7 linked regions of the Homo sapiens genome follow. The protein of the gene in region 1 purifies or fractionates together with the protein of each later gene. This does not show direct contact. Each region holds a gene or a part of one and is shown in the gene's direction. Other genes may lie near its edges.

Evidence for each region.
Region 2: the proteins of SLC18A3 (region 1) and SLFN11 purify together in Homo sapiens (affinity purification with mass spectrometry; one large-scale study listed by BioGRID and IntAct). This does not show direct contact.
Region 3: the proteins of SLC18A3 (region 1) and DHCR7 purify together in Homo sapiens (affinity purification with mass spectrometry; one large-scale study listed by BioGRID and IntAct). This does not show direct contact.
Region 4: the proteins of SLC18A3 (region 1) and CYP4X1 purify together in Homo sapiens (affinity purification with mass spectrometry; one large-scale study listed by BioGRID and IntAct). This does not show direct contact.
Region 5: the proteins of SLC18A3 (region 1) and CTPS1 purify together in Homo sapiens (affinity purification with mass spectrometry; one large-scale study listed by BioGRID and IntAct). This does not show direct contact.
Region 6: the proteins of SLC18A3 (region 1) and ACOX1 purify together in Homo sapiens (affinity purification with mass spectrometry; one large-scale study listed by BioGRID and IntAct). This does not show direct contact.
Region 7: the proteins of SLC18A3 (region 1) and MACO1 purify together in Homo sapiens (affinity purification with mass spectrometry; one large-scale study listed by BioGRID and IntAct). This does not show direct contact.

What each region holds. Positions count from the first base shown.
Region 1 is NC_000010.11:49,608,089-49,613,109, forward strand, and holds SLC18A3 (vesicular acetylcholine transporter), read left to right. Parts: upstream 1-2,221; 5' UTR 2,222-2,652; coding exon 2,653-4,251; 3' UTR 4,252-4,632; downstream 4,633-5,021. UniProt on the Homo sapiens protein: Electrogenic antiporter that exchanges one cholinergic neurotransmitter, acetylcholine or choline, with two intravesicular protons across the membrane of synaptic vesicles.
Region 2 is NC_000017.11:35,352,793-35,357,251, reverse strand, and holds part of SLFN11 (schlafen family member 11), read left to right. Parts: intron 1-3,192; coding exon 3,193-3,916; intron 3,917-4,112; coding exon 4,113-4,459. UniProt on the Homo sapiens protein: Inhibitor of DNA replication that promotes cell death in response to DNA damage. Acts as a guardian of the genome by killing cells with defective replication.
Region 3 is NC_000011.10:71,436,043-71,438,690, reverse strand, and holds part of DHCR7 (7-dehydrocholesterol reductase), read left to right. Parts: intron 1-747; coding exon 748-879; coding exon of another isoform or gene 880-887; intron 888-2,648. UniProt on the Homo sapiens protein: Oxidoreductase that catalyzes the last step of the cholesterol synthesis pathway, which transforms cholesta-5,7-dien-3beta-ol (7-dehydrocholesterol,7-DHC) into cholesterol by reducing the C7-C8 double bond of its sterol core.
Region 4 is NC_000001.11:47,033,611-47,038,161, forward strand, and holds part of CYP4X1 (cytochrome P450 4X1), read left to right. Parts: intron 1-2,195; coding exon 2,196-2,323; intron 2,324-2,406; coding exon 2,407-2,561; intron 2,562-4,551. UniProt on the Homo sapiens protein: A cytochrome P450 monooxygenase that selectively catalyzes the epoxidation of the last double bond of the arachidonoyl moiety of anandamide, potentially modulating endocannabinoid signaling.
Region 5 is NC_000001.11:40,989,376-40,993,926, forward strand, and holds part of CTPS1 (CTP synthase 1), read left to right. Parts: intron 1-1,789; coding exon 1,790-1,873; intron 1,874-2,389; coding exon 2,390-2,470; intron 2,471-4,551. UniProt on the Homo sapiens protein: This enzyme is involved in the de novo synthesis of CTP, a precursor of DNA, RNA and phospholipids. Catalyzes the ATP-dependent amination of UTP to CTP with either L-glutamine or ammonia as a source of nitrogen.
Region 6 is NC_000017.11:75,957,959-75,962,509, reverse strand, and holds part of ACOX1 (peroxisomal acyl-coenzyme A oxidase 1), read left to right. Parts: intron 1-2,134; coding exon 2,135-2,295; intron 2,296-4,551. UniProt on the Homo sapiens protein: Involved in the initial and rate-limiting step of peroxisomal beta-oxidation of straight-chain saturated and unsaturated very-long-chain fatty acids.
Region 7 is NC_000001.11:25,482,527-25,487,077, forward strand, and holds part of MACO1 (macoilin), read left to right. Parts: intron 1-1,589; coding exon 1,590-1,748; intron 1,749-3,086; coding exon 3,087-3,269; intron 3,270-4,551. UniProt on the Homo sapiens protein: Plays a role in the regulation of neuronal activity.

The sequences.
Region 1 (5,021 bases):
GTGCATGTACTGACGAAAGGCCATCAAATACAATTTAAAATAATTAGCCCACTCCAAAGAGTCTTCTGCAGCACGCACTTCTGCTAAGGGCTGCAGTGAGTGGGCTCTCACCTCAACCTGAACCAGACGGAGGCTGAGGCTGGGCCCCACTGAGGGGCTGTGACTTGCCCAAGGTCATCCAGGGCCAGGCCTGTGCCCACATTGGGACTCTTTTCCTCCCTCAGACAGAGGGCACTTCAGTCACTGCAGAGCAGGTGGCAGCAGCCCTTCAGTGGATGAGTTTCTCCTTTCCCAGGGTGACTGGGTGGGTGAAGGAATTGAGCAACAGGTGGCCAGGCTGCCGCCTCTCACCCTGACACATTGGTCCCCATCCCCTCATCCTACAGCCATCTCAGGGACAGATGGAGACATTCCAATGCCCTCCGGGTCCTCCACCAACCCAGACAGAGCCTGGAGTCACAATGCCCACCTAGCCAGAGGGATCAGCCAGCTAGCCAAGTGCCCCCTGTGTCTTTCATCTGTTCTTCACAAGACCCACAAGTGAAAAATGAGGATAAACCGCACATTCTACACACGATAACAACATAGCAAGTCCTTATACTGCTCTTACTGTGTGCCCGGCCCCCTTAGCAGTAGGTACTATTATTATTCAATTTTACAAAGAAACTAACTGAGGGACAGAGAGGCAAAGTAATTCCCTGCAGGTACTCTAATGAGTACGTGGCAGAGCTGGGAGCCATCCTGGTTGTCTGCCTCGAAAGACCACACTCTTTGCACTGCATCGCGGCACTTCCTGCGGGGTGGGGGGCACAATGGGAGAAGCATCTGCGTCTAATGCTGCTTTACTTTTGAGGCCAGAAAAATGGGAAGGCTCCCCTCTGACTCTGGAAGAGAGACGCAAACCGTAATCTCAACAACACAATCCCCACCTCCAACCTCAGCCGCCCTGGAGCCTCTCTCCCGCCAGTCCGCCCACTGGAACACGGGTTCCATGTGCCATCCAGGGTCAACGCCGCTCTGGGGACGCGTCAGGCCCAGCGCACAGCCTGGGCAGCTCAGCCTGTCAGCTGAGCACGGGCGCCTCAAGGGGTGCGGCCCTCTCAGAAGGAAGGTGAGTCTCCCTGGAGCCCCTGACGACAGCGAAGCGGCTGGGCGCTCTCCGGGGAGTGGGCGCGGCACCCAAGAAGGGTTTCTTACAGTTCCAAGAGAGGACCCCAGCCACAGTCACTCCAGAGCCCACCCGGGGCTTGGAGGAGGCTCTGGAAAATGAGGGATGGGGGAGTGTGCAGAACAGGGGGCGGAGGCTGGCAGGAGCCGAGGGAGGGCTTGGTCGGGTGCGAAGAGTGCCTGGGAGGAGTTAGAGTGGGGAGGGGGTGCGGCGGCGGGGAGAGAAGAGGCGGAGCTGGGGGACCAGACCGCTAAAGGAGAAAGGGGGATTCCAGGCAAGGGGAATGTGGCCAGGCAGTGCGGGAGGGCGGCAGCGGCCAGGCTAATATTCGCGACCCCGACTGGGGCGCGGCAACTTCTGCCCTCAGTCCCCACAAGCTCCCGGCCGCGATTCGCGGCCGAGAAATTCTGCGGAGGGGCCGGTGGGTCAGAGCCAGGCCAGGCAGTTGCTGAGCCTTCCCCTCCCCTCCTGGCGGGAGTGTGTGTGCAAGGGGCCAGGGGGCGGAGTCGGAGAAAGGGTTGGGGGTGTCCGTGTCCAGCGCTCCTCCGGACGCGGCTCCACAATCCAGCTGCGAGAACAGATGGACGCAGCGGCGGCTCACCTCGGGGGCTTCCTGCTCGCTGTGCGCCGAGGTCCAGGCTGAAGCGGAGATCGCAAGCCTCTGGCTCCCGCCTCTCCCAAGGGGCCTCGAGGAACCGGCTGCCGCGCCCCCTTCCCCAAGAGGAGAAGAGCGGGCGCTGACCCCGCGAGTCCTAGAACCGCGGGCGGGGGGCAGGCAGGGGGCGGGGGGCAGAGGGCCAGCTACCGGCGCGGAACGCCCATCCCAGGGGCTGGTTCAAGACTTCCACACCGAGAGCCCTTCCTGGGCCTCCAGCCCTGGAGCATCTGGAGAGCGGACCCCTGCCCGGCCACGCCCCGCCCCCGGCCCCCGCCCCGCCGACGTCGCATTAGCATGAGCGACGTAAGTGGCCCGGGCACCACTCGGGGGCTGGGACTCGCCGCGTCACAGCCCCGAGTGGAAGGGAAAAAAAAAGAGGAGGCGGCGGAGGAGGCAAGAGCCGACGCGAGGGGAGGGGAGCGCAGCGGCGGGGCTAACGGGCGGGCAAGCGGGCGGGCGGCAACAGCATGTCCCTCGGCCAGCGCGGGCGGCCTCTTAGCGCGGCGGGGGCTGCTCTGGGCGCGCCCCGGGCGAAGTGCGCCCAGTCTCCGGCCCCGGCCCCTCGGCGCGCCCGACTTCCCGGCCGCCCCTGAGCCCAGCAGCCGCGGGTCCCGGGATCGGCTAAGAGTAGCTGCAACGCCTCGCCGGACGGAGTCCTTTCCTTTCCCGGGACGCTGGGCCATGAGCTCCGCGGCCACCTGAGGCACAGGGGAGTCTGCTCGGCCAGGACAGCCTCCCCGAAGTCCCGTGCCCTCGCCTCTGCACTGCGGGACGCCAGCGCTCGGCCCTGGCGGAGGCGTCCTCGGAAGAGCATCGGGGTGGGGGCATGGAATCCGCGGAACCTGCGGGCCAGGCCCGGGCGGCGGCCACCAAGCTGTCGGAGGCTGTGGGCGCGGCGCTGCAGGAGCCCCGGCGGCAGAGGCGCCTGGTGCTTGTTATCGTGTGCGTGGCGCTGTTACTGGACAACATGCTGTACATGGTCATCGTGCCCATAGTGCCCGACTACATCGCCCACATGCGCGGGGGCGGCGAGGGCCCCACCCGGACTCCCGAGGTGTGGGAGCCCACCCTGCCGCTGCCCACTCCGGCCAATGCCAGCGCCTACACGGCCAACACCTCGGCGTCCCCGACAGCTGCGTGGCCAGCGGGCTCAGCCCTTCGGCCCCGCTACCCTACGGAGAGCGAAGACGTGAAGATCGGGGTGCTGTTTGCTTCCAAGGCTATCCTGCAGCTGCTAGTGAACCCCTTGAGCGGGCCCTTCATCGACCGCATGAGCTACGACGTGCCGCTGCTGATCGGCCTGGGCGTCATGTTCGCCTCTACAGTCCTGTTCGCCTTCGCCGAGGACTACGCCACGCTGTTCGCGGCGCGCAGCCTGCAGGGCCTGGGCTCAGCCTTCGCCGACACGTCTGGCATAGCCATGATCGCCGATAAGTACCCGGAGGAGCCGGAGCGCAGTCGTGCACTGGGCGTGGCGCTGGCCTTCATTAGCTTCGGAAGCCTAGTGGCCCCGCCCTTCGGGGGCATCCTCTATGAGTTCGCCGGCAAGCGCGTGCCCTTCTTGGTGCTAGCTGCCGTGTCGCTCTTTGACGCGCTGTTGCTGCTGGCAGTGGCCAAACCCTTCTCGGCGGCTGCACGGGCTCGGGCCAACCTGCCAGTGGGCACTCCCATCCACCGCCTCATGCTAGACCCCTACATTGCCGTGGTGGCCGGCGCGCTCACCACCTGTAACATTCCCCTCGCCTTCCTCGAACCCACCATTGCCACGTGGATGAAGCATACGATGGCGGCTTCCGAGTGGGAGATGGGCATGGCCTGGCTGCCGGCCTTCGTGCCTCATGTGCTGGGCGTCTACCTCACCGTGCGCCTGGCGGCGCGCTACCCACACCTGCAGTGGCTGTACGGCGCGCTTGGGCTGGCTGTGATCGGCGCCAGCTCGTGCATCGTGCCCGCCTGCCGCTCCTTCGCGCCGCTAGTGGTCTCACTATGCGGCCTCTGTTTTGGCATAGCCCTAGTCGACACAGCACTGCTGCCCACGCTCGCCTTCCTGGTGGACGTGCGCCATGTCTCAGTCTATGGCAGCGTCTACGCCATCGCCGACATCTCCTATTCGGTGGCCTACGCGCTCGGGCCCATAGTGGCAGGCCACATTGTGCACTCGCTGGGCTTTGAGCAGCTCAGCCTTGGCATGGGACTGGCCAACCTGCTCTATGCTCCCGTCTTGCTGCTGCTCCGCAACGTGGGCCTCCTGACGCGCTCCCGTTCCGAGCGCGATGTGCTGCTTGATGAGCCACCGCAAGGTCTGTACGATGCGGTGCGCCTGCGTGAGCGTCCTGTGTCTGGCCAGGACGGCGAGCCTCGCAGCCCGCCTGGCCCTTTTGATGCGTGCGAGGACGACTACAACTACTACTACACCCGCAGCTAGCATCCCCACTCCTCCTCCAGCCCACCCAACCGCCTTGGGTCAAGGGGGCTGCTCTGCAAGCCCACTGGCCAGCTCTGGCTCAGGGCCCACCTCCTCCAGCGAGTACCCCAGCCACTCCTCAACCTTGACTTCTGCCCAAATCCCCTCCCTGTGACCCGTTCCATATCCCTTTCTCTCTTGTCCAATGGGGCTTGGAGCACCGAGGCCAGCGAAGCCATCGCGCTCCTTGCGGAGGTGAAGAGGACCCTGAGTCCCCACCTGCGGCTCCCCTGTGTAGAGCCTGCATCTGTCTGTCCTTCCTTCCATTGCTCCCAGTGCCAAACTTGGGCCGCTGCACCGCGGCGCCTCCGCCCAAATCAATAAACTGTGTCTGTCCCAGGAGGCCGAGTCTCTTTACTGGTGGGGGGTGCGTGGAGGCGCGCAGGGCCAGAGCAGAGGGGAGGGTGAACTGGGTCTCCAAGTCCCAATCCAGACCTAAGCCAAACTAACACGTAGGCACCTGTAGCTGTTTTTCTACCTGGAAAAGGGGATAGGAAGGAAGCAAACCCAACAAAGGCTGTCACCCACGGTCACCAAGGAGCACCATGCTCCCCTCAGCCCAGGATAGACCCTCTTTTCCAGGCCTAGCGCAGAGCCCGGGGATGCCGCCCGGGGGAGCCTGAGGACCCGCTCCAGCTAGGCACGCCAGGCCCCGCCCTTTGAGGACACGCCCCACACCAGCCTCAGAGCTCTGAGGTGCCTGGGCTGAGCTTCCCTTCAGACCAGAATCC
Region 2 (4,459 bases), on another chromosome or scaffold:
TGCAACCCGTATCACAACCAAAGGGCCAGTGTCTCTAATATATAAAGAGCTTCCAGAAGTTGATAAGGACACAGACACACACACACACACACACACACACACACACACACACGCACAGAAAAATCAACACGGATAGTCCAGAGAAAATAAAATTCATACAGCTTTGAAACATTTGAAAAGATGCTAAATATTAATCAAAATAAGAGACATGTAAATTAAAAGGAGAATTATTTCCGTCTACTGGATTGTTAAAAAATGAAAAAACCTGACATTATCTCTTATTTGCTAGTTGTGGGGAAACACACCTTCTTGTACATTGCTAGTGGGAGTCCATATTGGTACAACTCCATTGGAGGACAATTTGGCAATATATTAATATATTGGAATCACAAATGCATTTAACCTTTGGGATTTTATTATGTGTGTGTGTGTGTGTGTGTGTGTGTGTGTGTGTATGCTACATATGCTTACATACACACCAAACATACAAGGTTACTCACTGTAGTATTAACATAATAGCAAAAGACTGGAGGGAAAACTCAAGGGCCCATCAATAGGGACTGGTCAAACAAGATATGGTACATCCATAAAATACTGTGTTAGATAGCTGTAAGAAAAGAATAAGGAATTGTGCATTGATATGGAAAGATCTCTACCATACATTGCTAAGTGAAGAAAAAAGTAGTTGCTGAATGGTTTGCTACCTGTTGGGAAAGAAAGGGCAGAATATTTGTTTGTATTTGCATAAAGTAATTTCGGAAGAATAGGCAAGAAACTTAAAAGTATCTGTGATAAGGGAGAAGGGTGAGATTGGGAAGGCAGGAAATTAAGAAAATGAGAGTAGGAGTGTTTGGGTATTTGGTATAGGAATATATTAACTAAAGTTATTTTTTTAAAAGACAATTTTCATTTTTGGAACACTGTTATTGTTATTAGATTTTGAACATTAATGGTGGTAAACAAACTATGTTTATACTTTTACAATTAGAATCCAGATATTAAGAATAAAGATGTTCTTAGCACACTAATTATTAGCATTGATTGACAATAATTTGGCTTCAGAATCAATGCTGTCAGTGCTTCTCTTGGAAGAAATGCAATGATTGTCTCAAATAGAAATTTTGTCTATAACTGGAGTTACTGGTACTAAAGATAGTCAGGGCCTGGTGTAGTAGGTCAGAATCAGCCAGCTCCAGTGTTCTTCCTCTTGGTGTCCTAAACCTTTAGGATACCTCACCTGATTGATTTCTTATGGTTTGAGAACAACTGCCCTGGACCCTTCACTGCTGATTCTAAAGATTCCCTAGATCCATGGTGAAATTAGTTCCCAGAATGGATACAAAGTGGGAGCTCTGAGGACAGAAGGATGAATATGGGAGTTCTGGGGAGGGTGAGGAGTTTATCAAGTGATCAAGGTGGAAGTCTTCAGAGTTTCAGAGCACACCTGTGCAAAGGCACAGAGTCCTCAAATCACATGGGGAGTGGTGACTACTCTGGTGCACCTGGAATGATGGCATTAATTGAACACCTAGTCTGGTCCCTATCATTACTGTTATGTGGAATATCAAAGAAATGAAAGAAGCACTTCTTATCTTCCTATAATTTCCTTCAGAAGCATGCTCCATTATACAATTAAAGAAAAAGAAGACCTATGCAATGATAAGGTAAATAAACATCAAGTGTTTTAGTGACTTTTACCATTTATCAGGCAGGAGTAGTCTGTGACTTGCAGGGCAGGGCAAAAACAGTAGAGGATCCGATGTCCAAGAGACTTGGGTTCAGACTCGCCCTGCCATTTCCTAGTGGTGTGATGTTGGGCAAATCACTTGATCTCTTTTATTTTTTATTTTTTGAGACAGTATCTTGCTCTGTCGCCCAGGATAGAGTGCAGTGGTGCAGTCATAGCTCACTGCAGCCTTAAATTCCCTGGCTCAAGCAATCCTCCCACCTCAGCCTCCTGAGTAGCTGGAACTACAGGCCCATAGCACTGCACCCAGCTCTCACTTGACCTCTTTGAGTCCTTATCTACTCATATGAAGATGGGAATAAATATGTCATCCTTGGAAAATTTGTGAAGACCAGAGATACATGCAAATTCCCTGGTAACAATCAACAAATGATGTATTTTCTTATTTTACATTTCTTTGGTTTCCAAAGCTTCATTTTAAACATATACTCAATTATCCTATTTTATCCATTCTAAGATGTGTATCTCCCCCTATATTTTAACATCTCTAAAATCTGGATGTGTCTCATAATAGATGCTATCTCCTACTGTCATCTAGGTTGCAGGGATAATCAAGTCGTGTGAGCACCTGGTACGAATGAGAAAGCACTAGCAACAATGAACAAGAAACAATTACCAATAAAATCTGGGTAATTTCATTTGAAATTACCACTACAAATCTTGATTTGGGTTTGTACTCTAACACTACCACAACAGGACAACAATTATCTTCCTCCCCCTCCCACTTTGGAACCCTTGATCATTGAAATAAGTTCATAATCCTCCAATGCAAGTATATTCTCGTGTCACATAATTATTTCTTGTTTGCCTGTGACACAGGGAAGACTTTTGTGGTAGTGGGGAGCCATACGTTGATCTTTAAGTGATGCAAGAATTCTGCTTCAGGAGAGATAGCTTTAAGAATCTTCCAGTCCAGGACTGCAGGAAATTCGCTGCCAACAAAGGTTTTAATATGACTCCCTCTCCTCTGCAACTATGGAGTTAATGACTACCTTCTTCCTGTGGCAGTGGAGGAGGGGGGGCTCCTGCTACTCCCAGCAATGGGGCATTTTGAGATTCAGGTACTTTGAAAGTAGAAAGGGGAGGAGGAGAACCAACATTTCTCAAGCAGCTACAATGAGCCAAACATTTTATGTTATTTCATTTATTCCTCCTCATAGGAAATGTGCTATTCTTAGTTTTGTTTTACAGATGAGACAGCAAAGTCTTAGGCTAAGGAATTTCCCAAGGTTATAAGTTGTAAAAAACACATGGGTTTAGATGAAGTATACCAGATATTCCAAGGGTTCTTTTCCTTTATAACTATAATATAATAATATTTATAAAATAGTATTTGAAACTTCTATAAGTAATCATTTAGTTAATCAATTAGTTAATTATAATTAGTCATCTTAATCAATAGGGTTATTTCTCTTCCTCTAATTTATCATTCTTTTCACATACAGTCCCACCAGGATATTTGCGATATACTCCAGAGTCACTCTGGAGGGACCTGATCTCAGAGCACAGAGGACTAGAGGAGTTAATAAATAAGCAAATGCAACCTTTCTTTCGGGGAATTTTGATCTTCTCTAGAAGTTGGGCTGTGGACCTGAACTTGCAGGAGAAGCCAGGAGTCATCTGTGATGCTCTGCTGATAGCACAGAACAGCACCCCCATTCTCTACACCATTCTCAGGGAGCAAGATGCAGAGGGCCAGGACTACTGCACTCGCACCGCCTTTACTTTGAAGCAGAAGCTAGTGAACATGGGGGGCTACACCGGGAAGGTGTGTGTCAGGGCCAAGGTCCTCTGCCTGAGTCCTGAGAGCAGCGCAGAGGCCTTGGAGGCTGCAGTGTCTCCGATGGATTACCCTGCGTCCTATAGCCTTGCAGGCACCCAGCACATGGAAGCCCTGCTGCAGTCCCTCGTGATTGTCTTACTCGGCTTCAGGTCTCTCTTGAGTGACCAGCTCGGCTGTGAGGTTTTAAATCTGCTCACAGCCCAGCAGTATGAGATATTCTCCAGAAGCCTCCGCAAGAACAGAGAGTTGTTTGTCCACGGCTTACCTGGCTCAGGGAAGACCATCATGGCCATGAAGATCATGGAGAAGATCAGGAATGTGTTTCACTGTGAGGCACACAGAATTCTCTACGTTTGTGAAAACCAGCCTCTGAGGAACTTTATCAGGTAAGCAGTTGGATCTTACGTCTCTAAGTATTATTTAATCTGGGTTTAATTTTTTCTGCTAAGTCACCGTCTTTCTTGAGAATTGAGTGGTAAAATGATCTGTGGTAATGTACTGTGCTCGGAGGAACATGATACAATTATTTTCTCCCCTTGTTTTTTTAGAGAAAACCTGAGTGTGTTCTTTTAATTTTTACAGTGATAGAAATATCTGCCGAGCAGAGACCCGGAAAACTTTCCTAAGAGAAAACTTTGAACACATTCAACACATCGTCATTGACGAAGCTCAGAATTTCCGTACTGAAGATGGGGACTGGTATGGGAAGGCAAAAAGCATCACTCGGAGAGCAAAGGGTGGCCCAGGAATTCTCTGGATCTTTCTGGATTACTTTCAGACCAGCCACTTGGATTGCAGTGGCCTCCCTCCTCTCTCAGACCAATATCCAAGAGAAGAGCTCACCAGAATAGTTCGCAATGCAGATCCAATAGCCAAGTACTTACAAAAAGAAATGCAAGTAATTAGAAGTAATCCTTCATTTAACATCC
Region 3 (2,648 bases), on another chromosome or scaffold:
TGCCAGCCCTGGGAGGGGAGGAGGCAGGTTCTACGCAGCCAGGCGTGGTCCAGGAAGGTCTCCCTTGGGGATTACACCTGGGTAGAATCTGGGGGTGTGTGGGAGTTAACCTGGTAGAGTGGAGGCAAGAGTGCATGCTCCAGGAACCCCCTGTAGGGAGAGAGGGTGGCAAGTCTGGGACACTCAGAAACATCCCGCATCCTGACCAGAGAGCGTTCAGGAGCTCAGAGCCAGGTGAGGCTGGAGGCCTCATGGAAGTCTTCCTCTTTATCTTAAAAGCAGCAAGACCCAGAAAGTGTGTGCTGAGCTGGGGTGCAGGGTGGCAGCGATCAGGTGCATTCGGAAGCGTCACCCAGGGAGCCAGCGGGAGCTGGCTAGGAGAACCCGAGAGGGTGAGGGAGGCCTGTCAGGAGCTGTGGACGTTGCTCGGGCAGGAGGTTGACCTGGATGGGATGAATGTATCCCTTCCCCTTGGCACGCGCCATTGCAAGCCCTGAGAACCTGGGCTGGGAGAGATGCCAGGGCCATGGGCTCGGGGTGGTTCTGAGGACAAGGAAGCCCTTAGCCCTGCCCATGACCCAGGCAGGAACAGCCCCAGCCGCAGGGAAGGAACAGCCCCAGCATTGAGGAAGTTGCTGAGCAGCTCCCGAGCACCCCCTGCTGCATCTGCGTGGAGTGTGATTTCCCCGAGGTCCATGGGGGCCCCAGGAGGGCCGGGGGTGGTCAGCGGCTGCTTCTGTCTTGCAGGCCATCTACGTGATTGACTTCTTCTGGAACGAAACCTGGTACCTGAAGACCATTGACATCTGCCATGACCACTTCGGGTGGTACCTGGGCTGGGGCGACTGTGTCTGGCTGCCTTATCTTTACACGCTGCAGGTGAGGAGGTGGGCAGAGCTGGCCCAGCGGGGCATTTGGCAGACACATGCTAAGCTTTCTCCTTGCAGAAGCGTCTGTCCTTGGGGGCACCAAAGCTGCCCCCTGTTTCTAGGAAGAAGGGAAGGCCTCGTGTATTAGCCAGCTCAGCCAGCTTGGGCCAGCAGCCAGGGAGGTGGCCTTGAGTATGTCCCTAACATCTGCAAAGTAGGGCAGATGCCGGCTCAGGGCTGGATGGGGCAGTGGAGGTGGAGGTGGGTCAGTGCGGGCACTGGCAGGAGGGGTCCTCTTCATTCCTGCCTCCTAGGATGTGCTGGGCACTGGGGCAGGGCTGCCCTGGGAGTTCCAGGACAGTAGGGGATAGCAAGTGGCCTTGTCATTGGCATCAAGCCCCCCACTCCCCTCCCAGCTCAACGAGAGCAGCCCTGCTCTGATTTGGGGAGAGTGCTGGGCTCCCAGGTAAGGTGGCTGCTTGACCAGATGCCACCTGCCCATTTCAAGAGCAACGAGCCCCCTGGGGACAGAAATAACTCACCCCAGGGCACTTGCTTAGCAGAACGGTGGGGTGGCCTGCCCCAAGAGGCTGTGCCCAAGTGGAGAGAACCAACGTGGAGAGGCTGTCACCTATTCAGGATGTGACAGGCCCGGCATCACCTGTGACAGCCAGTCCTGTGGGATGGAGGTGCGGGTGTCCTGGAAAACCAGGATTCCCACAGCAGAGGGGGCCAGTACCAGGTGGAGGGTGCAGAGCCCCAGCTGGCCCCATGCTCACACCAGGTCCTTGGAGCCCCCCGCATGGCCCACCCGGCCCCATTTCTCCACCTGGCTGGCTGCAGGTCTGCTGGTTCCCTGGTTTTATAAACTCCATTTTCCAAGGATGTGAAAACGTAGCAATAGGTCCCACTATATAATAGCTCTTACTTGCTTTAGCCTCTGTGTGTGTCTCGAGATGTACATTTTTTATACTATATATTAGGTTTCTCCCAAGAAGCAGAATCAATAGAGGGGTGGAGGGTATACGTGTAAGAAAGAGATGTATTTTTCAACTCATGTGATTGAAGAGTGACAAGTCCAAGATCTTCAGGGCAGCCTGGAGCCCCAGGGAAGAGTTGATGCTGTGCTTAAATAGAAGGTCACTTTTTTTTTTTTTTTGAGACGGAGTCTCGCTCTGTCACACAGGCTAGAGTGCAGTGGTGTGATCTTGGCTCACTGCAACCTCCACCTCCTGGGTTCAAGTGATTCTCCTGCCTCAGCCTCCCGAGTAGCTGGGATTACAGGTGCATGCCACCACGCCCAGCTAATTTTTGTACTTTTAGTAGAGATGGGGTTTCACCATGTTAGTCAGGCTGGTCTCAAACTCCTGATCTCGTGATCCGCCCGCCTTGGCCTCCCAAAGTGCTGGGATTACAGGTGTGAGCCACTGTGCATGGCCAGAAGGCCACTTTTTAGCAGATTCCCTCTTCTTTGGGGAAGGTGGGTCTTCTGTCTCTTAAAGCTGTCAACTGATTGGATGAGGCCCACCCCCATTGTGAAGGGTCATCCACTCTGCCTGGTTGACTGATTAACATATGAACCTCATCTGAAAAATGCCTTTACAACTAGTGTTTGACCAAATATCTGGGAACAATGGCCTGGCCAAGTGGACACGTTAAATTGACCATCACAATATTAAATTCAGATTATATTTTTAATACTGTTACATATTTGATGTTTATGCTATATGTCATATATATAGGGGGTATATATACACACACACATACACACACAGACAG
Region 4 (4,551 bases), on another chromosome or scaffold:
AAGTACCAAATGGTGATAGTTAGATAGTAAGTGCTGTAGATGTGTTTCATGGAGGGCGGGTCTGTACAAACCTACCCCAAAGTCTGAGGAAACTGAGAGGCTGAAGAAAAAGGCTGACAGTTTCTTAAAAAGAAACATTCAATAGAGGCTTTCAAACAAAAACCATGGCTGTTTCACACAGTTGTGAGACAAGATGGTGGATCCCTGTGCCATTACCCTCCAGACCCAGGAATTATAGACCATGGGGAGGGGCATACATGCTTCAGAGGAAATTATTAATAGTAAGAACTTGCCCTAAGGGCAAGATTTATGGTAAGTACATGCTCTTACACAAGGAACAATAGATAAACTGGAAATCTCAGAGCATTCCTGGAACTAGAGTTAATTGGAAGTCAAGATGGCAGATTAGCTTCCAGTATGGAGTTGCGTTAACTTCACAAGGTGACAGGTAAGGATGGCAGGAGCAGCTATAACAGCTTCAGATTCAGAGGAAACTCAAATTTGCCATGAAACATAAGCTGGACTTGAATATGTAGGTAATATGGATGAGAGTATTCGAGGCAGAGTGAGGGAGCATGAACAAAGGTTTGGAGATTGGCATGGACTTGCCCAGTGGCTATAAAGGACCAAGCAAAAGAGAATGTGTGTATTAAAGTTGCAGATGTGAATTTCCTCTTGTAGATAGTGGAGGATCATTAGGCCCTGACCTACACCTTTCAAAGGGGCTGAAGAACATTCCTGTGAGTGGTCTCTGATTTATAAACGAGTTCTATTCCAAAACTCTATTTGTACAATGGCTTCAATTTTTAAATCATATTTATTTTGAAATAAGACAAGTAATTCACTAATACACTTTCATCATAGACACCTCAAACACCACAAACAAAGACAAAGTTTTCCTCTCACTTCATGTGCAAACCCATCCCTGTTCCCATACAAACCTCTGTTACCAGCTCAATGATTGGGTTCTCAGCCAAACTCACAGAAGCAGTTTGAACCCGAAGTCAGCCAGGACTGTGGTAAAAACATCAGTGTGAGTTCTCAAGGCAGAGACCCAGAGACTGTGCAGTGCAAGCTAGTGAGAGAGAAGAGCATCCTTTTGTGACTCTAGTGCTGTTCAGGTGCAGCACAGTTTCAGATCCTCCAGTGACTGCACTGGAGTTGCATTAGAGTTTTCTCTCTATTTCTCGGAGCGCTTCCTCCCCTCCTCATTTCTCAGCCACATATTTCTCCGGGATTTTTCTCACACTTCCTTCCTCTGCTGCATCATTCCAGAGTTTTTCAAGCTTGGAAGCCTCCCTCCTGTTCTCATTTCTTCTACATTCACCATTTGTTCTTAGTAAAACTTACGTAATTGAGAAAAAGGCTCTTTGACTAAACAATTTGCACTTAGGAAAAAGTTTTTAAAATTCTCTTTGCCTTTGTGGTTGCCAAGTCTCTGAAATTTTAAAAGTTCAGGTTGACCGATAGGTCTTAAGCTAGGGGCTAGGTGCTTAAGACCTATCGGTCGACCTGAACTTTTAAAATTTCAATTTATTTTAATTTTTACACAAAGTATGCTTATTATACAAATACATTTTCAACCAGGGACCTTGTGACAGTTTAAAAATGTCAGGCAAAGCATTTCAAGCAGTATAAGTAGGTCTCTTTGTGGGGAAGTTAAGCCAGGTCAGGCTTTGCTGGGGGCAGCTCCCTGCAGCAGCTCCTCTCCACACTTGCTCTGTTTCTCACTTTTGAATCCAAACGTTTTTGAAAATGTTCTGAGTTTATTTTAAATGTGGCTATGGTGGTTGAGAGCAGTGGCAGGGTACCTAGCAAGTTTGGAATTGAAGTTGGAGGAAGCCCTGGGGTAAACCCCTTGTAATTATGGGTCTTGTGTCAATGATTGCTTTAATGGAACTCTGGTCTGTTTGAAAGCAGAGTTATGGTAATAATTGAAAAGCCGCAGATCTTTAACTCAGCCATTTACCATATATGCAGTTTTCTCCATGCTCCTTCTCACTCCGCTGGGTGTATTTTTCCCTTCCTCGTGCCCTGTGTAAGCACATGGCTTATTTACTCATGTGATCTTTGGTTCCTGCTGGGTCAGGGTTGTCTCCATTAGATCATAAAAACAGGGCCAGGCAGGAGCCTTCAAATGAAGGCAATTTGGTCATGGTGGTGGTGATGATGTTGGTCTTGACCTCCTGTGCCAGGATAAGTGGGAGAAGATTTGCAGCACTCAGGACACAAGCGTGGAGGTCTATGAGCACATCAACTCGATGTCTCTGGATATAATCATGAAATGCGCTTTCAGCAAGGAGACCAACTGCCAGACAAACAGGTCAGTGGTGGGAGAGCAAAAAAGATATTTCTTCACATTTTCTAAGTTGTTTATTAACACATTATCCCAACTTTCTCTTCTAGCACCCATGATCCTTATGCAAAAGCCATATTTGAACTCAGCAAAATCATATTTCACCGCTTGTACAGTTTGTTGTATCACAGTGACATAATTTTCAAACTCAGCCCTCAGGGCTACCGCTTCCAGAAGTTAAGCCGAGTGTTGAATCAGTACACAGGTATTTGTTGGGTTTGGGTTGCCCACGTCCATACGCTGCCATGATTGTACTGTGTCTGTCTAGAGGGATAAACCTTAATATGACAAGAGAAAGAATCTTTGTTATTAATGGAGCTTTTATATAGACACTGCTCCAAAGAAATTTGACTTGAGTCCTTTATAAGACTTTGCTTCAACCATAGCAGTATTATCAGAATTTTTATATATATATATATACACTATTTTTATTATGGACAATTATTATTAATACAAATATAAGTAGGCACTTAAGAGTTCCAGACATACATGGAATATGGCTTTTTGCACAGCGATTGCAGTAATAATAATGACAAGCTAAAAACATTCATGCAACATAGGAATGGAGAGTGGAACAGAGTAAACATGGACATGCACCCGAAAGAATATTGATTCAAAAACAGTTTTAGCAAGCATAAACACAAAAGTTGAAATAGATTAAGCTTTTTAAGCAATTCAACATTACTTGTCATGAATGCCATAATGGAGAATACTTATCAAGCAGTGAATTAATCCTTCATCAGCTTCACCACTTACTAGCAGTTACTAGTAAGTTACTTACTGCTTTGTTTCAGTGTCATCTATAAAATGGAGATTAAAAAAGAACCTATCTCATACATTTGTTGTTACGATGAGTGGGTTAATATATATAAAGCATTTAGGACAGTGCCTGGCACTGAATAGATGTTAAATGTAAAGTATAGTTATGTCAAATGTCTTTGCTTCCAGGAATTTTGCAAGACACACCAACATATGCACACTTACACATACATATATGCATACATGCACATAGATATTATAAAGAGGACACTCAGAGAAGCAGGTTATAAACAATTTAAGGCATAAATGGGCATTATAAATAGCAGCAGTTCCCAAGTCTTTCTGCATCATTGCACACACAGAAAATGTTAATGTTTTTGTGCTTCATTGGAGTAAACAGGAATGGATTTGGGGGAAGCTATACAGAACTTTGTAAAAAAAAATCTTTACTTTTTAAATATTATACAATTATGATGAAAAAGCAAAATGCAAAGTGTTAGGGAAAATATTAAATGTTAAATTTATTCAAAACTTAAAACCTTTTCAATTTTTTTTTTTTTTTTTTTTTGAGATGGAGTCTCTATCACTCAGGCTGGAGCGCAGTGGTGTGATCTCAGCTCACTACAACCTCCACCTCCCAGGTTCAGGCAATTCTCCTACCTCAGCCTTCTGAGTAGCTGGGATTACAGGCACTGCCACCACACCTGGCTAATTTTTTTAAATTGTTTATTTTTATTTAGTCAAATATATCAATATTTTATTTTATTGCATCTGGATTTTTAGTAATCACAAAAAGCCATTCTCTATTCCAGGGTTTCTCAACCCTCAGCACTAATGGCTTCTTAGATTAGATAAGTCCTTGTTGTCAAGATGTGTGCATTGTAGGATGTTTAGCTACATCCCTGACATCTACCCACTCGATGTAGTAGAGCTCTGATAGTTATAGCAACCATAAATAACTCCAGACATTATTGAATGTTCCCAGGGCCCCCAGTTGAGAACCACTGCCCTGTACCCAGGTTGTAGAGAAAATTATTTATGTTTTCTTGTAGTACTTGTATAATTTCATTATTTTCATATTTAAATCAGAGATCTAAACTCCATTTAGAATTTATTCCTATATATGGTGTGAGGTATTGATCTAATTTTTCCAAATGTTTATCCAGTTGTCCCATCACCATTATTTAAAAGTTTATCTTTTCAAGTGATTTGAGATAACCATCACATTCTAAACGGATACATGTACTGGTATCTGTTTTGGATAAGAGTATATTTGGATGTTCTCGTGTATTCCATTGATCTATCTACCAATGTACCAGAATCACACTGTTTTAATTAAGGAGATTTTGTGGCTTTTTTCAACATTAATAGACCTTATTTTTAGAAAAGTTTTAGGTTTGCAGAAAAATTCAGCAGAAAGTACAGAGAGTTCTCAT
Region 5 (4,551 bases), on another chromosome or scaffold:
TGTTGACAGTCCTTGCCTTCTTCCACCATTTGGTTCCCAGAATCATCATGTTTAGGCTTGGCCATTCCACGTAGGAGGTTGTAAGATTGTCTTCTGGGGTATGGATAGCCCAGGATAAAAGACACTGGCTCTGGCGGCTCCCCATGAAATAAGCCAGCCAGATTTTCACCATGACAAGCCTACACACTCACACATAACTTATAGGTAGCATTTAAGCAGGCCTCCATACACTTGGAGAAAGCATCTGATAGGTAAGAGACCAAACAACAGAAAGAAAGAAACTTACAGGGAACTGAGGCGCTACAAGCAGAGGAAACTTTAAAAAAACACCAAAAAACCAAAAATGACCTGTCATTACTATTCTTAGAAAATTAGAAGGAGATAAGCTATATCCGTTAGGTAAGAACTGGATGCTATAAGAAAGAAACATTGAGAGAACAGAAAAGAATCCTTGGAAATTAAAAATTAGATAGCAGAAATGAAAAAGTTAAGAGAAAGTAAGTTGAGGAAATACCCAAGGAAGTACAGCAAAAAGACCAAGAGATAGAAAATAGGAGAGAAAAGGTAAAATTAGAGGACTGGCTCAGAAGTTCTAATGTCCAAATAATAGGAGTTCCAAAAAATAAGAACACAGAAATGGAGGTATAATCTGAACCCCAGGGGTCAGCAAATGATGGCCTATGGGCCACATGAACCTACCCCCCCGTATTTGGAAATCAAGTTTATGGAAATACAGCTGTGTCTGCTTGTTTATGTGCTGTCTGTGGCTGCTTTTGCTCTAGAACAGTAGAGTTGAATACTTGTGGCAGAGACTGTGTGGCCCACAAAACCTAAAATACTTACTATCAGGGCCTTTACAGAAAAAATTTTCTGACCCCTTATCTGAACAATTCAAGGAAATTTCTAGACATCAGTTTCTGGGTTGAAAGGGCCCCCTTGGTGCCTATCATATTGGATGACAGATGACCTACACCAAGGCATATTATTGTGAAGGTTCAGACTAATGGGGCAGAAGTTCTAAAAGGCTCTGAAGAGAAAAATCAAGAATCATTGTGCCACTGGACCCCTTAGCAACAATACTGGAAGCTAAAAGACATTGATGCTATTTCATTAAAAATTCTAGTGGAGGCTGAGCATGGTGGCTCACACCTGTTATCTCAGCAGTTTGGGAGGCAGAGGTGGGAGGACTGCTTGAGCCTATGAGTTTGAGACCAGCCTGGGCAATGTGACAAGAGCCTGTCTCGATTTAAAAAAAAAGAAAAAGTCCAACAGAAAATGATTTCCATCCTACAAGTCCATGTGTAACGTGTATCTGTTAAGTGTGAGAGAAGAATAAAGATGATTTAGTACAGAAAGGAAAAGTGTGGCACATGGTTTGGGAACAGTATTTAAATACTTAAAAAGTATGTAAACCCAAAAGAGGACTGCAGGCACAGGAAAGTGTCTAATGGGGGCAGGATCCTCATTTAACAGGGAAATCAATAGAAAATGCCTCCAAGTAAATGTGGAGAAGTAGCACACCAGCAAGATCAGTTAAGAGTTGAAGAGCGGTTGTTTCTAGGGATTGGAAAGGGGAGAGTGGGTGAGGGCCGATACTGCTTACAAGCTCGGTTAGAACCATTTGATTCTAAAATGCATGCATGTGTAACTTTGACAAACATAAAAGCTAAATTACACAAGTGACCAAATGATCTATTTCCTTATTAAAAGAGGTTCAAGGAAAAGTCATACTTGAAAATTCCTTATCAGAGGGAAACTAACTTTTTTTTTTTTTTCTTTTGTGAAATAGCCAAGTTCAACAGGGGAACAGAAGACTAAACCTACCCAGAATAGTGTTCGGGAACTTAGAGGACTTGGGCTTTCCCCAGATCTGGTAAGATTTCCTGATAGCTGGTTGCAGTGTAATCTTTTATGTCTAGTTAAGATCACTCTATCATGACAGACAAGACCTTTGTCTTGTTGGGTTGCTTTTGATAATTGATGATGGAGAAAATAGGATTAGTTCTTTGAACCGGGCTGTAGTTTGCAAGATGTTCATACTTAGAGCGTGTTAGGTCTTGTACTCCCCAGACCTTATTTTTCCTCTCAGTCTTTTTACTCTCATTTTTACTCCTACTTGGGAACACTAATGGAGGAAAATCCCAGAGCTCTTGTAGTTCATTAATGTATTCATTTGTACTGCCATTCTCTTATGTTTCTCCAGTTTGGCGTTTACGGATTTTAGCTTTGAAACGAGTCATAATATTTTTATGGATTATGTGCCTGGTGCTGAGAGTTAACGTTTTCGTTCATCTTAACAATGTGATGTCTGTTTTAATTTCAGTCAGGAGAAACCCCTACTTCTGTCATTTTTTCCTTCTGTCTAAGCCATCTTGTTCTCTACTGCTAGGTTGTATGCAGGTGCTCAAATCCACTTGACACATCAGTGAAGGAGAAAATATCAATGTTCTGCCATGTTGAGCCTGAACAAGTGAGTAGAAATTCCCATCTCTAATAAGTTGTTTTTTGCTTCTAATTGTCCTAAAGCCTCTTGATCAGTTTCGTGAGGCTTGTTATTTTCTAATTAGAGATAGTGGGCTGTTCCAGAAGAACCCATTGCCATCGGCCATTCCCTGCCTCTCCTGGTTCCCCAAACAACACCTGTGTCCCTCCTGCCTCTTCTCCGTGCCTCGTTGTACTTTGTGCTTCAGCCGGGTGGAGTATCTTTCGGTTCCCCTAGTACCCTCCACTCTCCCTATGATTGTACTTTTTCACTGGCTAATTTCTGTTAAGAACCCATGTCCCCCTCTTCCTGTTGGCTTGGCAGTCTCCTACTCACTCTCATCCTTCAGGTTCTAGCGAAGACATAGTGTTGTCTGAGAAGCTTTAACTGCCAAACCTCCTGGCCCTTGGCCTTCAGGGTTAACTGCGTCCTTCACTGGGCTCCTGTGTGGTGTCGCATGTATGCTGCTGATGGGCCCATCTTTCTGGTGTGTGTGTGTGTGTACATGTGTGGTGTGTATCTCCCTTCACAGACTCTAAGCTTCTGGAGGGCAAGGGCCACCTCATTCAACTTTCTGTTTCTGGTGCCTGGTGTCTAGGGTGTTGTAGGCTGTCACAGAGATCTTAGTGTTTTTGTTACTGTACCTATGATGCAGGAAATCCAAAATTTGGAACCTGTAATGTATCTAAGTGTGGTGCTTAGTATGGAAATTCTAGTGGTGATACATTGAGCATGTAGCTTTGGCCAGGTTTTAGATATTTCTGGCCTAGCAAGTGAAGGAAATTCAATTCTGTAGCAGAATAGGTTGTCATTAAAATTGTTCAATTTTTTTTTTTTTTTTTTTTTTAATTGAGACAGAGTCTCGCTGTGTCGCCCAGGCTGGAGTGCAGTGGCGCGATCTTTTTGGCTCACTGTGACCTCCACCTCCCAGGTTCAAGCGATTCTCCTACCTCAGCTTCCCGAGTAGCTTGGATTACAGGTGTGCACCACCACTCCTGGCTAATTTTTGTATTTTTAGTAGAGATGGGGTTTCATTATGTTGGCCAGGCTGGTCTCAAAGTCCTGACCTCAGGTGATCCACCTGCCTCAGCCTCCCAAAGTGCTGGGATTACAGGTGTGAGGGCGCCCGGCCTTAAAAATATTCACTATTAAAAATGTAACAAGTATTTCCACATTTAAGTTTAAGTTTCAGATTTTTTGCTTTTTTTTTGAGATGGAGTTTTCACTTTTTCATCCAGGCTGGAGTGAAGTGGAGCAATCTCAGCTCAGTGGAACCTCCACCTGCTGGGTTCAAGTGATTCTCCTGCCTCAGCCTCCCGAATAGCTGGGATTATAGGCACCTGCCACGATGCCGAGCTAATTTTTGTATTTTTAGTAGAAATGGTGTTTTGCCATGCGGGCCAAGTTGGTCTGGAACTCCTGACCTCAGGTGAGCCACCCGTCTTGGCCTCCCAAAGTGCTAGGATTACAGGTGTGAGCTACCACGCCTGGCCTTGCCTTTTTTTTTTAAGAGACAAGGTCTTGCTGTGTCACCCTGACTAGAGTGCAGTGGTGCTGTCACAGCTCACTGCAGCCTGGGCTTAAACAGCCCTCCTGCCTCAGCCTCCTGAGTAGCTAGTACCTTAGGCGGACGCTACCATGTTCAGCTGTTTTATTTTTTGTAGAGATGAGGTCTTGCTATGGTTGCCCAGGCTGGTCTTGAACTCTTTGGGCTCAGGCAGTCTTCTTGCTTCAGTCTTCCAAAATGTTGAGATTACAGGCGTGAGCCGGCAATGCCCAGCCTTACTTACTCTTTTAATTGGAATGTTTATCTTACTGAGTTGACTTGATATAGTCTGAATACAAGTCTTTCATCAGGTATGTGATTTTCACATATTTTCTCCCTATCTGTGCCTTGTCTTTTCATTTTCTTCTCTCTTTTTTTTTTTTTTTTTTTTTTGAGATGGAGTCTTGATCTGTTGCTCAGACTGTAGTGCAGTGGCATGATCTTGGCTCACTGCCATCTCTGTCTCCCGTGTTCAAGCGATTCTCCTGCCTCAGCCTCCTGAGTAGCTGGGGCTACAGGCATG
Region 6 (4,551 bases), on another chromosome or scaffold:
TCAAAGACACATAGAATGATAAGAGCAATATGGAGTTGACGGATTTGGAGCTGGCAATTACACAGAATACCAGTAATGTGGAAAAATGCAAAGGCCTATAGAACGACTTCCTATCCCTAGCAAAAATTCACACAGAATCCTGTCCCCTGCACGTTTTAAGTGGAAAAGAATGACCCCAGAAAGTTGATTTAAAACTAATAAAGCTGTTTATTATCATTAATGATAATTTCTGTATAATTGTCACGGAGAGCTTATGCATGAATCTGTAACTTGTCGTTATTATGGTCTTCACTAGAAATTGCATGTCTTTTTTAATTTCTGAAATAAATTATTGGGATGAAGAGCACTGTCAGTTTTTGTATTAAAGTGTTTCAGTAGAGCGTGGCCGAATATTTGACATGATGAATCTGAATGAAATGATCAGAGCTATGTGAGGAATATGGTTCTACGCTGGATGTTTTGTGGACAAAACAGAAAAAAAATCCCAGCCTAGAAGCATTATTGAAATTGCATCGAGGAAAAACTATAATCTGGGGGTCATACTGTCACTCTGAGAGAACTACTATGTTCTGTCTCGCTTTCTCATCAGAGGAAATCCTTGTACCAGTACCACTCAAATTCTCTGTTCTCCGACTCCTGGCTTCAAGCGATTCTGCCTCAGCATCCCAAGTAGCTGGGATTACAGGCACATGCCACCACACCCAGCAAATTCTCCATTCTATACAACTTTTTTTTTTTTTTTTTTTTTTTGAGACAGAGTCTCGCTCTGTTGCCCAGGCTGGAGTGCAGTGGTGTGATCTCGGCTCACTGCAACCACCGCCTCCCAGGTTCTCCTGCCTCAGTCTCCCAAGTAGCTTGGATTACAGGCATGTGCCACCACACCTGGCTGATTTTGTATATTTAGTAGAGATGGGGTCTCACCATGTTGGTCAGGCTGGTCTTGAACTCCTGACCTCAGGTGATCCGCCCACCTTGGCCTCTCAAAGTGCTGGGATTACAGGCATGAGCCACGGTGCCCGGCCTTTTTTTTTTTTTTTTTTTTTTGTATTTTTAGTAGAAACGGGATTTCACTATGTTGGCCAGGCTGGTCTCAAACTCCTGACCTCAAGTGATCCGCCTGCGTCAGCCTCCCAAAGTGCTAGGATTACAGGCATGAGCCACCATGCCTGGCCCTATACAACTTTTCAAATTCTCTCTCTCTTTTTTTTTTTTTTTTTGAGATGGAGTCTCACTGTGTCGCCCAGGCTAGAATGCAGTGGTGTTATCTTAGCTCACTGCAACCTCTGCCTCCTGGGTTGGAGCAATTCTCCTGCCTCAGCCTCCTGAGTAGCTGGGATTACAGGTGTGCACCACCATGCCTGCTTAATTTTTGTATTTTTAGTAGAGACAGGGTTTCGCCATGTTGGCCAGGCTGGTCTTGAACTCCTGACCTCAGGTGATCCACCCACCTCGGCCTCTCAGAGTGCTGAGATTATAGGTGGGAGCCACTGCACCTGGCCAATTCTCTCTTATTTATTTATTTATTTTTTTTGAGACAGAGTCTCACTCTGTCACCCAGGCTGGAATGCAGTGGGCATGATCTCGGCTCACTGCAACCTCCGCCTCCTAGGTTCAAGCGATTTTCCTGCCTCAGGCTCCCAAATAGCTGGGACTACTGGCTGGCGCCACCACGTTCAGCTGATTTTTGTATTTTTAGTAGAGTCAGGGCTTTGCCATGTTGGCCAGGCTGGTCTCGAACTCCTGACTTAAGGTGATCTGACCGCCTTGGCCTCCCAAAGTGCTGAGATTGTAGGCATGATCCACTGCACTGGCCTCTCAAATTTTCTTTATTTCCTTTGATTTAATTCCTGGGCGAGGATCCTCTGCCTTGCACGTGTGGTTTTGTGCTGCATTGGCTTTGGAATCAGTAACCAATCCCTGTCCTCGTACTCCTTGCCGACTCAGGAAAAATGGAAATTAACAAGAGCTATAAAGTAATACAGAAAGGGACAGTGCTCCCATCTATGATTAAGTGCACGCAACTAATTCATACTTAAGGTTTTTTTGTCTCCTTCCCTTGCTCTATTTAAATTGCTGATTCTCTCACACCTGATGACTCTTCTCTCAAATGCCCATCCTTGATATTTCCTCGAAGTTTTGTGCACCGAGGGCGGCCTGAGCCTCTGGATCTTCACTTGGGCATGTTCCTGCCCACCTTGCTTCACCAGGCAACTGCGGAGCAGCAGGAGCGCTTCTTCATGCCCGCCTGGAACTTGGAGATCATTGGCACTTATGCCCAGACAGAGATGGGTCATGGTATGGAGTATTCAGTCTACCTTCTGGGTTGGGCGGGCCCCTGTGAGCTTACCATGTGTGGAGTGCCCACCATGTGCCATCGATGGTGTGTCGATGTTCTATGGTCTGTTTAAATGAGCTCTTTCTGCAGAGTCCAGGTTTTGGTATAAACACTGCTTTGGTGAGTGGGAATTAAAGACCATGATACTGATAAAATGATTGTCCTTTTTATACCATAGTTCCCCTTCAGAGGGTCAAGAATTGCAAATCAGGCCTTATTTACCAAGTGGTTTTTCAATGTTACTGAGGTTGTATAGAATCTGTGTGCATATACAACCCGAAGCTGTTTTTTTCTTCATTACTATCTGATTACCTTTACTACTGATACCTTAATGAGTACAAATTCCAGAAGAAATACAAATAATAGTTTGTGTACTCTTGGATTTGCTTGAGGGAAATGAGTAGCTTATAACTGACGTGTGTGACATTTTGGAGTTATTTGTACTTTGAGTCAATCAGTAGTTCTGCAAGTGACTTGGCTGGAGAGTGAAAAAACCAAGATAAGCCGAACTTGCAGGCATTTGGTTTCAGACTCTGTATCTCCACCTTTCATTGATCTTTCCACCCCCCACCTGCTTTCTTCATGCACCTGGGTGGGCTGGAGGTGGCCGCTGTTCCTCTTTGTATCTTCTCTGAATTGGGTCCGTGTTTGCCATTCATTTGCTTATGGCTTCTCTTTTTCTGCTCTGACGTTTCAGAAAAACTGGTCTAGTGTGTATTTGCCACTTGCTCCTTATTTCTATACAGCTGCTGCTTTTTATTTGGTGTTGAATAGTATTTTACAGGATTTTCATGAGACTCCAAGTGGAATACTATTTGTTTCAGTTGTGCTTTTGAAAACATTTTGTCCTTATCTGTTCTGTTTAATGTTATCTGCTTTTCTGTAAAAGCTGCTTCTTTGATGAAAGATGTCTGTGTCTGATTTGTTGACTCCCACTCGGGAAAGTTGTGGATTGCACATAAGTTGGTTATTCAACTTGGAAGCTTCTAAATGTTTCAAAGTGTGTTTAATGAGGTCTAAGCGTTATGAAAGCAGATTGGTAAAAGGTTCCCAACGTTTGCTTTAGTACAGTATTTTTGTAGAGACTGCCACCTAGAACATTTTTCTATGACTCTTTTCAAATAATTTTGATATATTTGTGTTAAGATTTAAAACATAAGATCCTGTCTATCCCAGTACACATAAGAAACTGGAAACTCTTCCTTGCCACATTAATGAACCAGCAGGACTAAGTTAGGCCTGCCATTGGAAATCTCTAGGGTCAACTGAGACCTTATTATTGGACCTTTAGGAATTTTTAAAAGTCACATTTCAGGTCATTTCCCCAATAACAGTTATACTTTTATACTTTTTTTTTTTTTTTTTTTGAGACGGAGTCGTGCTCTGTCGCCCAGGCTGGAGTGCAGTGGCGCGATCTCAGCTCACTGCAAGCTCCACCTTCCGGGTTCACGCCATTCTCCTGCCTCAGCCTCCCGAGTAGCTGGGACTACAGGCACCCACCACCATGCCCAGCTAATTTTTTGTATTTTTAGTAGAGACGGGGTTTCGCCGTGTTAACCAGGATGGTCTCGATCTCCTGACTTTGTGATCCGCCCGCCTTGGCCCCCCAAAGTGCTGGGATTACAGGCGTGAGCCACCGTGCCCAGCTTTAATTTTTTTGTTGTTTTTTTAGTAGAGACGGGGTTTCACCACTTTAGCCAGGATGGTCTCAATCTCCTGACCTCGTGATCCCCCCACCTCGGCCTCCCAAAGTGCTGGGATTACAGGCTTGAGCCACTGTGCCTGGCCTTTTTCTTTTTCTTTTTCTTTTTTTTTTTTTTTTGAGATGGAGTCTTGCTCTGCCACCCAGGCTGGAGTGCGGTGGCACAATCTTGGCTCACTGCAACCTCCACCTCCCGGGTTCAAGCAATTCTCCTGCCTCAGCCTCCTTAGTAGCTGGGACTACAGGCGCATGCCACAATGCCTGGCTAATTTTTTGTATTTTTAGTAGAGACGGGTTTCACCATGTTAGCCAGGATGGACTCGATCTCCTGACCTCGTGATCCACCCGCCTCGGCCTCCTAAAGTGCTGGGATTACAGGCATGAGCCACCACGCACAGCCATACATTTTTAATTTATACGAATTTTGGCTGAAATGTCTTCCTCTCACATGTTATCTCATTCTTCTCATTAGTACAGAATTCAAGAATGTTGAATTGGTGTGGTTAACACAATA
Region 7 (4,551 bases), on another chromosome or scaffold:
TACATTTCTCCCCTCATTTAGAATGTCCCCTCCTCTTCTACTTCTCCAAATCCTATCCAAACATCAGGGCCCAAGTCAATCTCTACCTGCTCTGCAAAGCCTTTCCCAGTCTTCTCTCCTCAGACTCACATAGCACTTCTTCCTCTACCATGCTGTGGATGACATGGCTATAGTTTGGCCTAATGGTGAAGAGAATGGACTCTGGAGCTAGACTGCCTGGATGACCTTGGGCTGCATCCTTTCCTAGCCTAGAGTTCTTCATCTGTAAAAATGGGAATAGGAATTGCATTTGGCCCATAGTTGTACAGATTATAGGATTAAACCCTATAGAACAGTGCCTGGCCCATAAGTTCTCATTAAATAGTAGCTGTTGTTATTATTCCTTCTGGCATATATTTAATCATGGCCTTCCTTGTCTTATTGTTTAATCATTTAAATTATGTATTTCTTGGTTCCTATTTCTTTGTTCCTAATTGTGAAGTTTTCCCATGAAGAAAGAGACTTGATTTTATAGTTTTCGTTTGTTTGTTTTTTGTTTTTTGAGACAGAGTCTCACTCTTGTCACCCAGGCTGGAGTGCAGTGGCATGATCTCAGCTCACTGCAACCTCCACCTCCTGGGTTCAAGTGATTCTCCTGCCTCAGCCTCCTGAGTAGCTGGGATTACAGGCACGCGCCACCATGCCCAGCTAATTTTTGTACTTTTAGTAGAGATGGGGTTTCACCACGTTGGCCAGGCCGGTCTTGAACTCCTGACCTCAGGTGATCCGCCTGCCTCGGGCTCCCAAAGTGCTGGGATTACAGGCATGAGCCACTGCGCCTGGCCGATAGTTTTTGTTGACCATTTTCAGCACTACATATGCATAGTAGGTCTCCAATACCTGTCACTTAAAGTGAAACTATTACTGCAGTAAAGAAAATAGATGGAACAAGAGTAAGGAATTGACGAGAAAAGATAGGCTTCATTTTACAGATGGAGTTCTCTTATGATTCTTAGAGCATGTAATTTGTTCCTTTTTTCATTGTTATTGAGTCTCGTGAGCTCTTCTGCCGCAATCACCAGAGTTGTGAACGTCATTCAGCAAGGATGCTGCAATTTCTGGAGGTCGTCGCAGACCGTTTTCTTCTAGGCCCATGGTGGGACGCAGTCTCAGACAGTAGATTCTGATTTATCAAAATATCACAAAGCATTAAGTGGTAGGTCATGTGCTAGTTGTTTGAACATATTTCCCTTGCTGAGGGCATGAAAAGCCACCAGAAGGGAGCCTTTAGTCTTCAGCCACCCTCTCTGCTGTCCCTTTCTCCTTTATCAGCAGCTCGGATGGATATTCACAAGCACCATACTCACCTGTCACTATTCATAAACAGGGGGAAGTTGAAAGTTACACCCCAGTAGGAAGAGGTAGGGACCCAGGTGGAATCATTCAACAAAATTAACCCAGTTGCAGACAGGAGTCCTCATCATGGCAGGAACTGCCAGCGGGGTCCTTTTTCTGCCATTCACCCAGCAGTCCAGGACCCCCACCAGGTCCCTCCCAGCTCTGTGGGTGCCCTCACCTAGATGAAAATGCTGCATTTCTCATTCTCCTAGGCTGGAACAAGACATTAAAAAGTTAAAGGCTGACCTGCAAGCCAGCAGACAAGTGGAACAAGAGCTCCGCAGTCAGATCAGCTCCCTTTCGAGCACCGAGCGAGGGATCCGCTCAGAAATGGGCCAGCTTCGGCAGGAGAACGAGCTGCTGCAGAACAAGTACGTGCACCTTTCAGGCCTTTGGCCGTAAGCCCGGCAGCTTCACTGCTTCTCCTGTTGCCAGGGGTTGGAGCACAAGATTTATGGTGACAGAGACCTGCTGAGAGGTTTTTAAATAAAATGTTTAAAATACTTTATTTAGTACCAGATATTCAACATGTTTATAAAATCTATAAAAACTTATTTCATTGCCACAAAACAGTTTATTAATATTACTGTTTTTGTCTTCTCTCATTTAATAACTTCTTAGTTTAAAATAGTTATTGAGTTTTTGGATAGTAAAATTGACAAGAAGTAGTTCTGTCACATTTTGAAAATTTTGCTCCTTTGAGTGAAAATTTCTAGAGGATTTGACTATATTTACTTTTATTTCCAGAACTAAAAGATGACATTGAACTTTGATTTTATTTGAAAAGGCAGGCAGAAAGCCAGGTCTTCTGTGTGAATTCATTTAGGCTTTTGATTAGTTCATTCTGGAATTACTTCTTAACTCAGTGTAGGTCTGTCCTTTTTTCTTTTTTTAAATCTCCCAGCAATGTGTGCCCGTGGTAGTGATGATCATTACAGGCTGTTGGCTTTCTGGGCTTTCCCTGTTGAAAGAGGAGTTCAACATTTTTAAGGAATGTAACTCAAAAGCTAGGGCATTACAGGCAAATAACCTCTCCATTGCCTCTGACCAGCATTTGTGGTGGTTCTAGCATTGATATGTAGAGAACATCCCAGTGATAAACTCACCTCATGCTGATAGGTAAAGCTGGGGGTGGTAGTAAGCAGGAAATATGGCTGAAATTTCTATCTGAAATTAAGCATCCTGTGACTCTAAAAGAGGATTTGGGGACACTGTGAGCAAACATCCTGAGCTGGAAAGGAAAAGCTGTAGTAGGCTACAGCAAAATTGTATTCAGGAAAAATAAAAACCTTCCCCTTTCCACCCCTTACCTTAGTTTCACTGGGGCTGGTCCCATCAGTGGTTCTTTGGTGGGACTGAAGTTCTTTCAGGGTGCTCTGGAACATTAGAATTAGTTCTACAATTATCTTCCCCTCTGTTCAAAATTTGTTTTACCCTGTTTTCTGGATGACCTTTTGTAGATCACTTACTTGAACAGAGCAGAGGCTAGGTCTTAATCTCTGTTTTGTAAGGCAGCTTGTTTATTGGTGTTTAGGAATTATTAAAGAATAACAGTGTGTTTTCCTCAGGCATTCTGGGCATTGACATTTTTGATTTGCTGTTCAAACCTCCTGTTTAATTGGCCTTAAGGTGATAAAGAGATGTTTCTCAAGGGTTTATAGTGGGCATTTGTAATTTTAAGACTTTATATGACAATCATTTCCATATAGGTTACATAATGCTGTGCAAATGAAGCAAAAAGACAAGCAGAATATCAGCCAGTTGGAGAAAAAGCTAAAAGCTGAGCAGGAAGCCCGAAGTTTTGTAGAGAAACAGTTAATGGAAGAGAAAAAGAGGAAGAAGTTAGAAGAAGCCACTGCTGCCCGGGCTGTTGCGTTTGCTGCTGCATCTAGGTATGTCCATGTCACCTGAGTGTTTAATCCAAGGTTGGCTTTCCTTTACCAACAAAGACATGGGAATTTGGTGCCTTGGGCAGGATTGGACGTACAGCAATCATGCACGGATGGATTGCTTTTAAGTACTGTTTTATTAACTGGTTTAAACTCCATGTGTGCAAGCTTGCACTATCTTATAACAGCTTTATCCCTCAGTGACCTCATCTATAAAGTGGGATGAGGGAATCACCATGTTTCCCATACCTGGGAGGCAAAGTACTGCTCATAAAAAGGTTTCCAGTCACTTTTTGTCAGACTGATGATTACTAAATGCATTGAGAGATTCTATCTGGAAGTTCGTTCCCTTTAGAGAGCTATCATTACTCTCCACTCTTAGGTATATGTGTTTCTGAAGTTTTTATCTTAAAATGGAAGAAAGATAAAATCTTGGTTGCCCAAGCACTGTGTACTGGCTGCTCAAATGGATATCAGCAAACTGTCAAATGAAATGGAAAAAAAAAGTGAAACATAAGTCTCTACTAGATGGAATTACATTTATGGCATAATGAAAATTGGGGACTACCTCCTATACCACTGGAAAGTACCCCTGTGTGCAAGTATTCCAAAAACTATTAGATAGTTAAGAGCTTTTTTTTTCTTTTTGCTTCTACTTCACTTATCACTTTTTCCTTTGTTTTCTTGACTAGTGAAGTCCCTCTGCATGTGGGAATCAGTTAGGTGTTTGCAGATATAGAGCGAGGGTAAATTATTATTTATTTCACTTTTAAATTCCATCCTAATTTGTATCTACGTGGTATAATTCAACTGTAATTTTTCCTTGAATTTTGCTTTGTCGTAATTAAAGTTAAGTAATTTAACTTTTGGCATGTTGATAGCCTTCTTTGTGGGTTCTGGCATTTGCAGAATAATTGGTGAATCATTTCACCTTTTAGGAAATAACAGCAAGTGAGAACTCTCTCCTGTGTGATCCTGCCTCCCCCCAGCAGATGGCTGAGCTGGCTTGGCCCATCAGCATCTATACAGACTTACAAGGCCCTTGACTAGCCTGCCTACAATGTGGGATTGTTTGTTTGTTTGAAGATGTATTTGCATTCTGAAGCACTTAAACTTGCAGGAGATGTTCTTGAACAGTCATCTAGTGATGACTGCTCTCCTCTCTCCTCAATTCATACAGCACCTGCCCTTTCTGAAAAATTCCACTCAGGAGGACATAGCAGTTCCTTAACGATATTGCTTAGTGTCTCCCATGCCTGAGAATCAGTAAGTTGATTTCAGTGTC